Linked DNA regions of Homo sapiens: region 1 is linked to region 2. Evidence: fine-mapped expression QTL. Tissue or cell type: monocytes after Pam3CSK4. Region 2 holds a variant in brackets; the other region holds the start of a gene. All regions are shown on one strand. Distances are from middle to middle.

Region 1 (5,261 bases), 85 kb before region 2:
ACAGTCACCGCAAAGGTCTGCAGCTCCACTCCTGAAGCCAGCAAGACCATGAGCCCACCAGAAGGAAGAAACTCCGGACACATCTGAACATCTGAAGAAACAAACTCCGGACACATGACACACCATCTTTAAGAACTGTAAGACTCACCGCAAGTATTCGCAGCTTCATTCTTGAAGTCGGCGAGACCAAGAACCCACCAATTCCGGACACAGAAGGAAGGAAAACAAAGGGGAAAGCAGATTCTCTACAGAATGTGGATTTTTCCCATAAGAGACTTTGCAGGACAATTTCAAGGTAGGGCAAGGAAAGATATTTTTGGGTAAAATATTTTTATTTTCTTCCTTATTATGCCAGAGTCAGATTGGAAAGTAAGTCATGATATACACGGTTAAATAAAACCCATCTGATGTGCATTTATGGTTTGGAGAACATGACTCCCCAAACCCCTTAGATAGGAATTTGAGCAAGATAAAAAAATCAGAGCTTAGTCCTCAGAACCAACCTAATGCATGATCTCCCAACTTGATCTCTATCTTCCCACAAAAGATTGACTTGGAATGACTTATTATTCCTAAAAATCAATCTATTCTTAAAGGCTTATTTGTCTCTGTAGGGTAGTTGTTAAGAGTTAAAGAAAGAAGAGAGAAACACAAAAAGTGGCTCAACAATCAAGGATAGGTTTATTTTAGAGAATAAACCTGAGAGGGGCTTCTGGCCAATTTTGGTCAGGAGCACTCTCTCTTACAGACTAAGAGTATTTAAGGGTTTAGGGTGAGAGAGCTTATCACAGGCTTGGAATATTTCTGCTTGGAGGAGAAGTTTATTACAGGGTTGGAATGTCTCTGGTTGGAGGGGAGGGGTTATCTTGGGGCTGACATCGCTCCGGTCAGAGGGAAGGTTATCTTGGGGCTGACATCGCTCGGTCAGAGGGAAGGTTATCTTGGGGCTGGCATGTGTCTGGTGGGAGAGGGGTTTATCTTAGAGTTAGAATGTTTCTGGTCGGAGGTGTCATTTGTGGTTTGTGGTCATGCTGACAGCCATTAGGCTGATGCCCTCTGGGTTGGATTTAGGTGGTTTTTGATCAAGGGGCACTTTAAAATGGCAGTGCTTCTGCTCTGTCAATAGTAGGATATGCCAACCCAAAATATGGCACTTTGGCATAAAGATTATTTTCGAGTCAAAGGCACTTAAAAAAAAAATGCAAAAAGAGCACTGTGGCTTTCCTTTTTCCTTCCTGAAAGCAGGAGATAAAACTTCCGTATGAAAGGTGCCCTCCCTGTATAAGGAGGAAGGGAGATGTTCTCAACACCAGAGACATGGAGTCAAAGCTGAGCTGTATCTGCACAAACTTACCGATTTTCATTTCCACTTTGTTACAACAACCTTTATCTTCTTAGTCACTTCTGCATTAACTGCACTAACCCAAATCTGTTTGTTTTCTCACATTTTCACAATTTACTACTCTTTTTAGCCTTCCCTAGAAAAATGGAGACTCAAAAGCACTTAGGGTCCAACTGTTAATTTGGGTCTCCATTTTTCTAGGGAAGGCTCCAATGTAAATGTAAAAATTACTAAATAAAATTTGTATGCTTTCCTCCTGTTATGTTTTATGTCTCTATTTTACGTCAGTGGAGACTAAGCTCTGATTTTTTTTTTAATCTTGCTCAAATTCCTATCTAAGGGGCCTAGGGATTCATGCCCTACAATCCATAAATTCTCATCAGATGGGTTTTATTTAACCCTATATATTGTGACTTACTTTCCAATCTGACACTGGCATAACGAGACAAGAAACAAAATCAAAATATTTTACCGCAAAACATTTTTTTTAGTTTTTGACATATCTTGAAACGGCTCTGCAAAGCTGTCCTTTGTTGGGGGAAAATCTGCATCTACATAGAATTTCTATTAACATAGCTAGATCATTTTCTTCCAGGTCCTCCCAATCCTAAAGAGATTACGTAAGAATCTAGCACCTTTTAAAGATCTGAATAGGAAACATTTGTCATCCATTGTCTCTAAGGGCAGCCACTATAAGACTTCAAAAGAACCTTGGTCTCCACAATCTTTTATTTTAACCTCAACATTTCCTTTCTATGGGTCCCAGGTCTTCAACTGTCAACCAGAAAATGTTTAAATTTACCTACAGCCTTGGAAGCCCCTGCTTTGAGTTGTCCCACCTTTCTGAACCAAACCAATGTAGTTCTTAAATTTATTTGATTGATGTCTCATGCCTCCCTAAAATACATAAAACCAAGCTGCGCCCCAACCACCTTGGACACATGTTCTCAGGACCTCCTGAGGGCTCTGTCACGGGCCATGGTCACTCACATTTGGCTCAGAATAAATCTCTTCAAATATTTTAGAGTTTGACTCTTTTCCTCATCAGTTTAATTCTTAGGCCCAGCCAAGACCCCAAGAGGGGAGAGGAAATATTTTCACTTTCCCTACACCAGTGTTAAGAAGCCCAAGAACGCAATTCAGAGGGCTTCCCAAATCATTTTGAAGAATGGTAACATCTCTAGAATATCAATTAGATCGTAGGGGAGTACATAAGTCATGTGTACACCTTTAGGTGTTTGTGAAAACCAAGGCATATAAAATATCACATTATTTGGCCTCAGTACATTCCCATACTGACAAGCACTGTACCATTTTTCCCCCGCTCTAAGCAAGGGCTTCCTGGGGGGAAGAGTCTGTGGTTGGGTGTTCAGAAGCAGAGAGTGCTCTCCCAAAGCTAAACGATGCCGCCAACTACTGTGAAACTTAACTTCCCCTCTCCCGGAATTCTCATGGAAGACAAGGTCTGATCAACCGAGGGCTTAAGAAGTATCAAATTGGAACTCATGGAATCACTGGCGGAGCTGATTTACATATGAGAATTCCTAAGCCTCACAGCATAGAAATTTTCATGCCAGATGGTCCTGAAAAAGTTGTTTTAATTGGCTACCAAAGGTTTACCTTGCAAACACCAAGTTCTTAAAGATTACAAAATCTAATAAAGCCGAAGTGTGAATTAAACTTAACCGCAAGAGGAGTCACCTGCGGTCACCTCGTTTCGCCCACAACAAAGATGTCTGCGCATCGCTTACCGTGGAGCCGTTCCAGTGCGTGGGCCACGCGTCCGCCCTTTTCCGCGTCACATGACCACGAACACTCTTCCGCTACGGCTCCCAGAAGGGGCCAGCCCGCGCCTTTCGCGCTTCTGCCCTGGCCCTCTGCGGGCCGCTCCGCCGGTGCTGTCCCTGGGCGCCTCCGTGCTCTCAGCCAACCACCTCTGAGAGCGCCCACTCGAGCGCCCCGGGAGCCAGAGGGCGGGGGTCCTCGCCGGGACCCTCCTGTGGGCCCAGGGGTGAGTGTTGACGTCTTCCCGACCCGCGACCTGCCGCCCGAGCTGGCTGCCAGGCCTATCGCCGCCGCCGAGACCCTCCGGCCAACAGGGACCCGCGGTGGCCCCGGCCCCCCCGGTAGTGTCTCCCTGACCCGAGTCCCGTCCCCGGGCCTCTTGCCTTCAACCCTGGTCTTTCCTCCTCCCCGGGACCTTGAGTCCCCGAGGAGAGCGAGGGAGAGGAGCGTCTTCTGCAGGTGTTTTTGGGCGAACCTCTTCACCTTGTGTGGTTCGGCGTCTCCTTTTGTGTATTAACCCGGACTTTTCCGACTGGAAAATAGGGGTTTGGGAAGCAGCGGGAGTCCCGTGAGCGTGAACGCCGGGCTTTGCAGGTCTTCACTCATCCTTCCCTGCCAAGGCCCTGACACCTTACAGGCTGACCTTAAACCTGCCTTGTTTAAAAGGAGGTTTTTGTGTTGTTTTGTGGCAAGTACATTTTGGAAAAGAAGGGCCTTGTTGGAAGCCCAGGTTGTGGCATCGCGGGTGGCTGCGGGCCACCCTGTCCGTCTGTGAGCATCCCTGCTCGCAGATGTGGCTGCAGGCAGTTGCTCTCGGGTTTCCTTCCAGGAGCTGGGAAGCCGGAGGAAAGCTGCGGTTCCTGTTCCGCCGAGCTTCTGACCTTCCTCTGCAGGACGTGTGCTACTATTACTATCGTAAAAGAACACCCCTGTCTACCTCCCACAAAGTTAGAAGCAAAGGGCATTCTCGAGGGAAGAGCACCCTTTCAAAAGTGACATGTTTTCATTGGAGAACATTAAAGGGGAAAAAAAAAAAAAAGGTTTCTGGCCCTTCTGCCCAAATATAGAACCATTTGTATTCAGGCCTCTCATCCACCGAGAGACTTAAGATGATCACAAATGTTTTGTCTCCCTGCGTGAAAAACATTTTTTCTGCCTCAATTCCGTTGGCTAATGAGAGCCCAAAAGAAAAACCCTTAGGAAAATTAGGACGATTTAGTTATACTTAGTAGTCTTTTCCCATGCAATTAAATTGCTTGGGGGACCTTCTATCTTTTGGTTTCAAAGGCTTGTATATTGGTTTTGCCATTTTTTCCAAAAGGAAATTGTGTTCTCTCCCTTCCTGTCTGATAGAGCTGCCTCCTTTCAGAATTGCAAAGTTTAGTCTTCGCTCTCCTCTCTTCTGGTATTGAAACTTTTCTGTGGGTTCATAACCTTATTTTAAAGTTCATTAATATATAGTTTTAAAAGTTTGCAGTGACTTTTTAAATATAGTTTCTTTGAAAAAGAACTGAAACAGGGTGTGCAGAGTGGCCCATCTGTGTGAACTAGGTCCACGCAGTAGGTAATAAACAACTGGAGGGTTTTTTTTGGTTTGTTTTTGTTTGTTTGTATGTTTGTTTTTGAAAAGTACATAAACATTTGCAACCACAGTCAGTTTGACTCAAGTTGTTTCGGTGACTTCCGAGGCTTTCTGGGTTCCAGTGTTCTAATACAGAAAATGAGAAAGTTGGGCTGGAATCATTGTGTCCCAAAATTGGTACACTTTCCGCTAGTGGCATGTGACTTGACTCTAGGCGGTACGTGGATGAGGATTTTTTTGTAATAGGATGTTTTTGCAATCTGTATTTATATATGTACAGCCATGGTTTAAGGTAGTGATACAAAATTTTCTTTTACAATACTTTTTTGATTTTAAAAAGTCGAGTTAAAAAAATTAACTGTAGCAAAAAGTTAATGTACTCTGTGAATATGGGAAAAAAAAAACCCATGAAGTTGGCAAGTTAGTTACTGGTGTTTGGGAACCACTGGGCTTAGAAAGTAGAAATATGAAATCATCTGTGATTCTAAGAGAGATTTTGCCTCGTTTGTTATGTAACAGAATCACGTACTGGTTGCCTACTGGATTCTAAGG
Region 2 (5,261 bases):
GGAAGCATCAGTGACCCTTGGCACGTACTCCCATCTATTTGTTTCTTTTCTCTCTGAGCCAGTCCAAACCAGCAGTATCTACATCATCTTTTCTTGTTCTGAAAGAGAATGCAAGTCACACATTTATGGCTGTGGGCCACATTTTTTTAGAGATGCCATCTGGTTCCAGTTTTTCTGACTGTTTGTGGAGAGTGGTGATTCCAACAATCTTCTACCAAATGTAAGGGGGTGATAAAAGTGTTCAGTGTTTGCCACAGAGATATCTCTAGCTTGGCCTGATCTCAGTGCACTGCTTTTTGGGTTTACTCAACAAATTGAACAATGCTCAGCCCCTCTTCCATGGAACCTTCCCAATCTCTTTAACCAGGGTTACACTGCGACTCCTCTAAGTCTCTGTACATCATAGCACTTTTGTGGGAGACCACTGCTACTTCAAATCTCTGCCAATAGCACCATGTTTCCTTTCGTTGCTAGCTTTTTAGAATTCTAAAGCCTACTTGGCCATTAGATTTTTTTTATTTTTTTTTTTTTGAGACAGGGTCTCACTCTGTTGCCCAGGCTGGAGAGCGGTGGTGCAGTCACAGCTCACTGCAGCCTCAACCTCTTGGGCTCAAGTGATCCTTCCACCTCAGTCCCCCAAGTAGCTGGGACTACAGGTGCTCACAACCACACGCAACTAATCTTTGTATTTTTTGTAGAGACAGGATTTCGTTATGTTGCCCGGGCTGGTCTCAAATTCCTGAGCTCAAGAGATCCTCCCATTTTGGCCTCCCAAAGTGCTGGGATTACAGGCATGAGCCATTGTGCCCGGACTAGCTATTTTTTAAATTGGAGTTTGAGGAAGGAGGAACAGAAAGGCTGCATCTGCTTAGTAAATGACTCCCCGCTGCCAACACACATACCCAGCAGATGGCAACACCCATGAAAATCCTTTCATCCTGTTGTGAATGGTGGATTCCCAAACTCTACAGGACCCTGCACTAGTCAGCATCTGCTCTTCCCTCTTGAGTCAGGGCAGCCTGCAAAAGTCTGGTGTGTATCATAGGCATCTTGGGGCTCACCTTCTACAGAAGGTCAGAGGGCACAGCAAAAATAGCTTTCTTGCTGTGACCTAATACATAAACCCTGGCACACTTCCGCCTGTCAGATGGGAGCACGCCCCTGTCCTCGGGCTGTTTTTCGCTGTCGCAACAGGCTGTTCTGCCGTTAATCCTTTCCTGTAATTCCCGCCGCCTCGCTCGATCTTGCAATTCTCTTGCCCAGTGGCCTTTACAGGGGGTCATTACTGGGACACGGGGAACCAATGTGCGGTAACAAATGCAAGCTGACAGCAACACGTTCCTCGCCAAAAGTGGGACTCTTGGGTTTTGTGTGTGTCAACTCAGAAGAAACGAGAAAAAGACCCCACCATGTGTTGGATGAGGATGGAAATTGGATGCAGTGACTAAAAGTGCTTTGATTAGGTGAATCCGTTGACAGTAAGAAGGAAGAGATTCTCAATGTGCTTGGCATTTCACTTTGTCTCACTTTGGGTGAATAGTCCCAATTCTGTCAGACGTGCATCTCTTCGTCTGTCAGCTCCGTGTCTCTTGCCAGGATGCTTCTCTCTATCTATCAGGCAGAATTTTCAGATGTTGTCTTTCCTGTCAGGAAAAGTTTAATTCATCATTTTCCTCAGGCCTTGAAAAAATTTTTACAGGAAAAAAATGGTGGTGGTGGGTTGGGGGTGGGGGGTTATGACAAAAACATTTACAGATTTTTCTTCACATATAATTTTAAAATTGCCTATTTTTGCTAGGCACGGTGGTTGAAGCCTGTAATCCCAGCATTTTGGGAGACCGAGGCAGGTGGATGACCAGAGGTCAGGAGTTCAAGACCAGCCTGGCCAACATGGTGAAACCCCATCTGTACTAAAAATACAAAAATTAGCTGGTCATGGTGGTGGCACACTCCTATAATCCCAGCTACTAGGGAGGCTGAGGTAGAAGAATCTCTTTAACCCGGGAGGTGGAAGTTGCAGTGAGCCAAGATCACGCCATTGCACTCCAGCCTGGGCAACAGAGCGAGACTCCATCTCAAAGAAAAAAAAAATTACTTACTTTTGAGTAGGTAATACATACACACAGTACAAAAGTCAAAAGGTTCATACAAATGGAAAAAACTCCATACTCTCTTCGCCTCCATTCCCCAGGCACCCAGTTCCTCTCAACGGAGGCAACCCTGGGTACTAGTGGTTTACATCTTTCTAGAGACTGTCTCTGTATAAATTAGCAGAGATAGTCTTCATATGCCTTTTGAGAGCATCTTTTTAAAATTTCTAAATCTAGGTAAGTTCTGAAAAGGAATATATTAAATATACATTAAAATATACTCAATGTGGCTGGGCATGGTGGCTCACACCTATAATCTCAGCACGTTGGGAGGATGAGGCGGGAGGATGACTTGAGGTCAGGAGTTTGAGACAAGCCTGGCCAACATGACAAAACCCTGTCCCTATTAAAAATACAAAATTAGCCAGGCAATGAGCCGGACTTGGTGGCGCATGCCTGTAATCCCAGCTACTTGGGAGGCTGAGGCAGGAGAATTGCTTGAACCCTGGAGGTGGAGGTTGCAGTGAGCCAAGATCGTGCCATTGCACTCCAGCCTGGGTGACAGAGTGAGACTCTGTCTCAAAAAAAAAAAAAGTATATATATATATGT[G/GTA]TATATATATATATATATACACACACACATATATATACACACACACATATATTCAATGTATTGAATGGTCTGTCCAGTTGAAGCCCTGATTCTAGACTAGATAATTTGTTGGCTTCTTGTTAGATCACTCTTAACAGAAATGTGACTGGACTTAGAATCAGTCTGGAAGCATTGTGGATACTCTGGAGTCTGACGTTTCTTGTCCCTTAACATTCAGCTCGTCTTTCCTGAGTTATACCTCTTAGTCATTTCCCTTTGAAATTAAGAGAAGGGCCTCAAATCTTAAAAATGGAAGAATACGGCCGGGCACAGTGGCTCACACCTGTAATCCCAGCACTTTGGGAGGCTGAGGCAGGCAGATCACCTAAGGTCAGGAGTTCGAGACTAGTCTAGCCAACATGGTGAAACCCCGTCTCTACTAAAAATACAAATATTAGCCAGGCATGATGGCGCACACCTGTAATCCCAGCTAGTCGGGAGGCTGAGGCAGGAGACTGGCTTGAACCTGGGAGGCAGAGGTTGCAGTGAGCCGAGATCACACCACTGCACTCCAGCCTGGGCGACAAAGTGAGATTCATCTCAAAAAAAAAAAAAAAAAAAAAAGGAGGGATAGAAGGTCTTGTGTTATTAAGACATAGAAGAAAAGTTAGTTGAGAATCTCACTGGCCACACCCCAAGAGGGGACATTTGGCCACTGCGGGTACATTGGGTGGTCTAGGGAATTGGCTGGGTCTGGGACACACTTGTTAAGCTCCTGAAACTTAGAGTTGAACAGAACAACAGCAGCTAGTATAACGACTTGAAAGGTCCTTTGATGAATTTTAATACCTGGACGCATAAATATTTGTGTTTGATACTTTTAGGCATCTGAAAGAAGTGTCTGATTTCCTTGCTAAGGGATTGGCCTCAGGAACAGATGCATACCAGTGTTGAAATTCTCCTCAGCCTCGTGACTGGCAGTGATTCTTGTGTATCTGCCCTCTGCCTGTGTTGGAGCTGCTAAATTGTAAGAATTTGTAAGTTGGTAAAATACTTCTAAAAACCCTCAGCTCCATAAATATTTTTAAATTTAAATTTAATTTTGTTTTAGAGATAGGGTCTTGCTATATTGCCCAGGCTGGTCTCAAACTCTTGGGCTCAAAGCATCCTCCCATGTCAGCCTCCAGAGTAGCTGGCACTACGGGCACATGCCTTGCTTTGCTCTTTAATTTTTTTTTTCTTTTTTTTTTGAGATGGTCTCTTGCTCTGTCACCCAGGCTGGAGTGCAGTGGCACAATCTCAGCTCACTGCAACCTCTGCTTCCCAGGCTCAAGCGATTCTCCTGCTTCAGCCTCCTGAATAGTTGGGATTACAGGCATGTGCCACCACACTTGGCTAATTTTTGTATTTTTAGTAGAGACGGGGTTTCACCACATTGGGCAGGCTGGTCTCGAACTCCTGACCTCAGGTGATCCACTCGCCTTGGCCTCCCAAAGTGCTGAGATTATAGGTGTGAGCCACCGTGCCTGGCCAGCTCTTTAAATCTTAACGTAGTAACACCGTTACTAATTTCTCAGCTGCTTTTCTGAGTTTAACAATTTCTGACTGAATGCTTTATTTATAGGTTGACAATTCTCAGTACCCCTAGTCAGCCAAATGTGTCTCTCTCCACAACAGAGACTCACCTTCTCGTGGCTGCAAGCTGTGCAGCTGAAGAGGGATTCTGGAGAAAGAAGGGGAATCCTTTTGTTTGGGTCTATTAATGCTACGCAATGTGCCTGGGTTCTTGGAGGGAGACATATCCCATTCTTCCTTATTCCCTCCCATTGACTATACAGGAGAAACTGTATGGAGCTTACTTCAGAAAAACTATTAAGTCCCAAAGATGTGAAGTGTTTTGAATTTTATTCAAGTCCAACCTTGCAGGGCAACAACTCAACACAGCCATTCCTGCTCTTTCAGGAGAAGCCACAAGTGTGGGAAGACAGGCAGCTAAGTCTAGGGCACAGACAAATTAGTCATACTGTCTGCTTAGATCCTGAGGGCCTGCGAAACCCTCAAGGTTTCCTGGTGTCATCTTAAGGTGCTAGTTATTCCATTCTGGCTGCCTTTTGATTCATTTGGTTTTCTGCCCACAGGCAAGCAGAGGCGAAACCAACCTGCCAACTCTTACCTCAAACCCATTGAGAGAGACCTGGGGATTTCCTAGGGTTTTATTTTTACCTATTGCTCCCCAAACAGAAGTTCCATTACACAGAAGCATTTCTTTTTTTCTTTTTCTTTTCTCTTTTTCTTTGAGACGGAGTCTTGCTCTGTCACCCAGGCTGTCATGCAGTGGCACCATCTTGGCTCACTGCAATATCTGCCTCCCGGGTTCAAGAGATTCTCAAGCCTCATCCTCTCGAGTAGCTGGGATTACAGGTGTGTGCCACCACATCCAGCTAATTTTGTATTTTTAGTAGAGACGGGGTTTTGCCATCTTGGCCAGTCTGGTCTCGAACTCCTGACTTCAAGTGATCTGCCCGCCTCAGCCTCCCAGAGTGCTGGGATTACAGGCATGAGCCACCGCGCCCGGCCACACA

What was found. PIP is the estimated chance that this variant, and not a neighbour inherited with it, causes the effect.
Region 1: MFF starts here. The variant in region 2 is fine-mapped to the expression of MFF in monocytes after Pam3CSK4 (Quach 2016, PIP 0.95).

The regions. Positions count from the first base shown.
Region 1 is chr2:227,322,075-227,327,335 of GRCh38, forward strand. It overlaps MFF (mitochondrial fission factor), which reads left to right and starts at 3,177. Exons shown (of 9, transcript NM_001277062.2): 1 at 3,177-3,353. It overlaps MFF-DT (MFF divergent transcript), which reads right to left and starts at 3,090. Exons shown (of 14, transcript NR_102371.1): 1 at 3,044-3,090. RefSeq lists an enhancer at 2,999-3,048 and a silencer at 3,229-3,518.
Region 2 is chr2:227,406,742-227,412,002 of GRCh38, forward strand. No RefSeq gene overlaps it. Among named protein-coding and RNA genes, the nearest start is that of SCYGR1, 21 kb to the left of the region's middle. RefSeq lists an enhancer at 4,869-5,068. The variant G/GTA (reference allele first, on the strand shown) is at 2,701.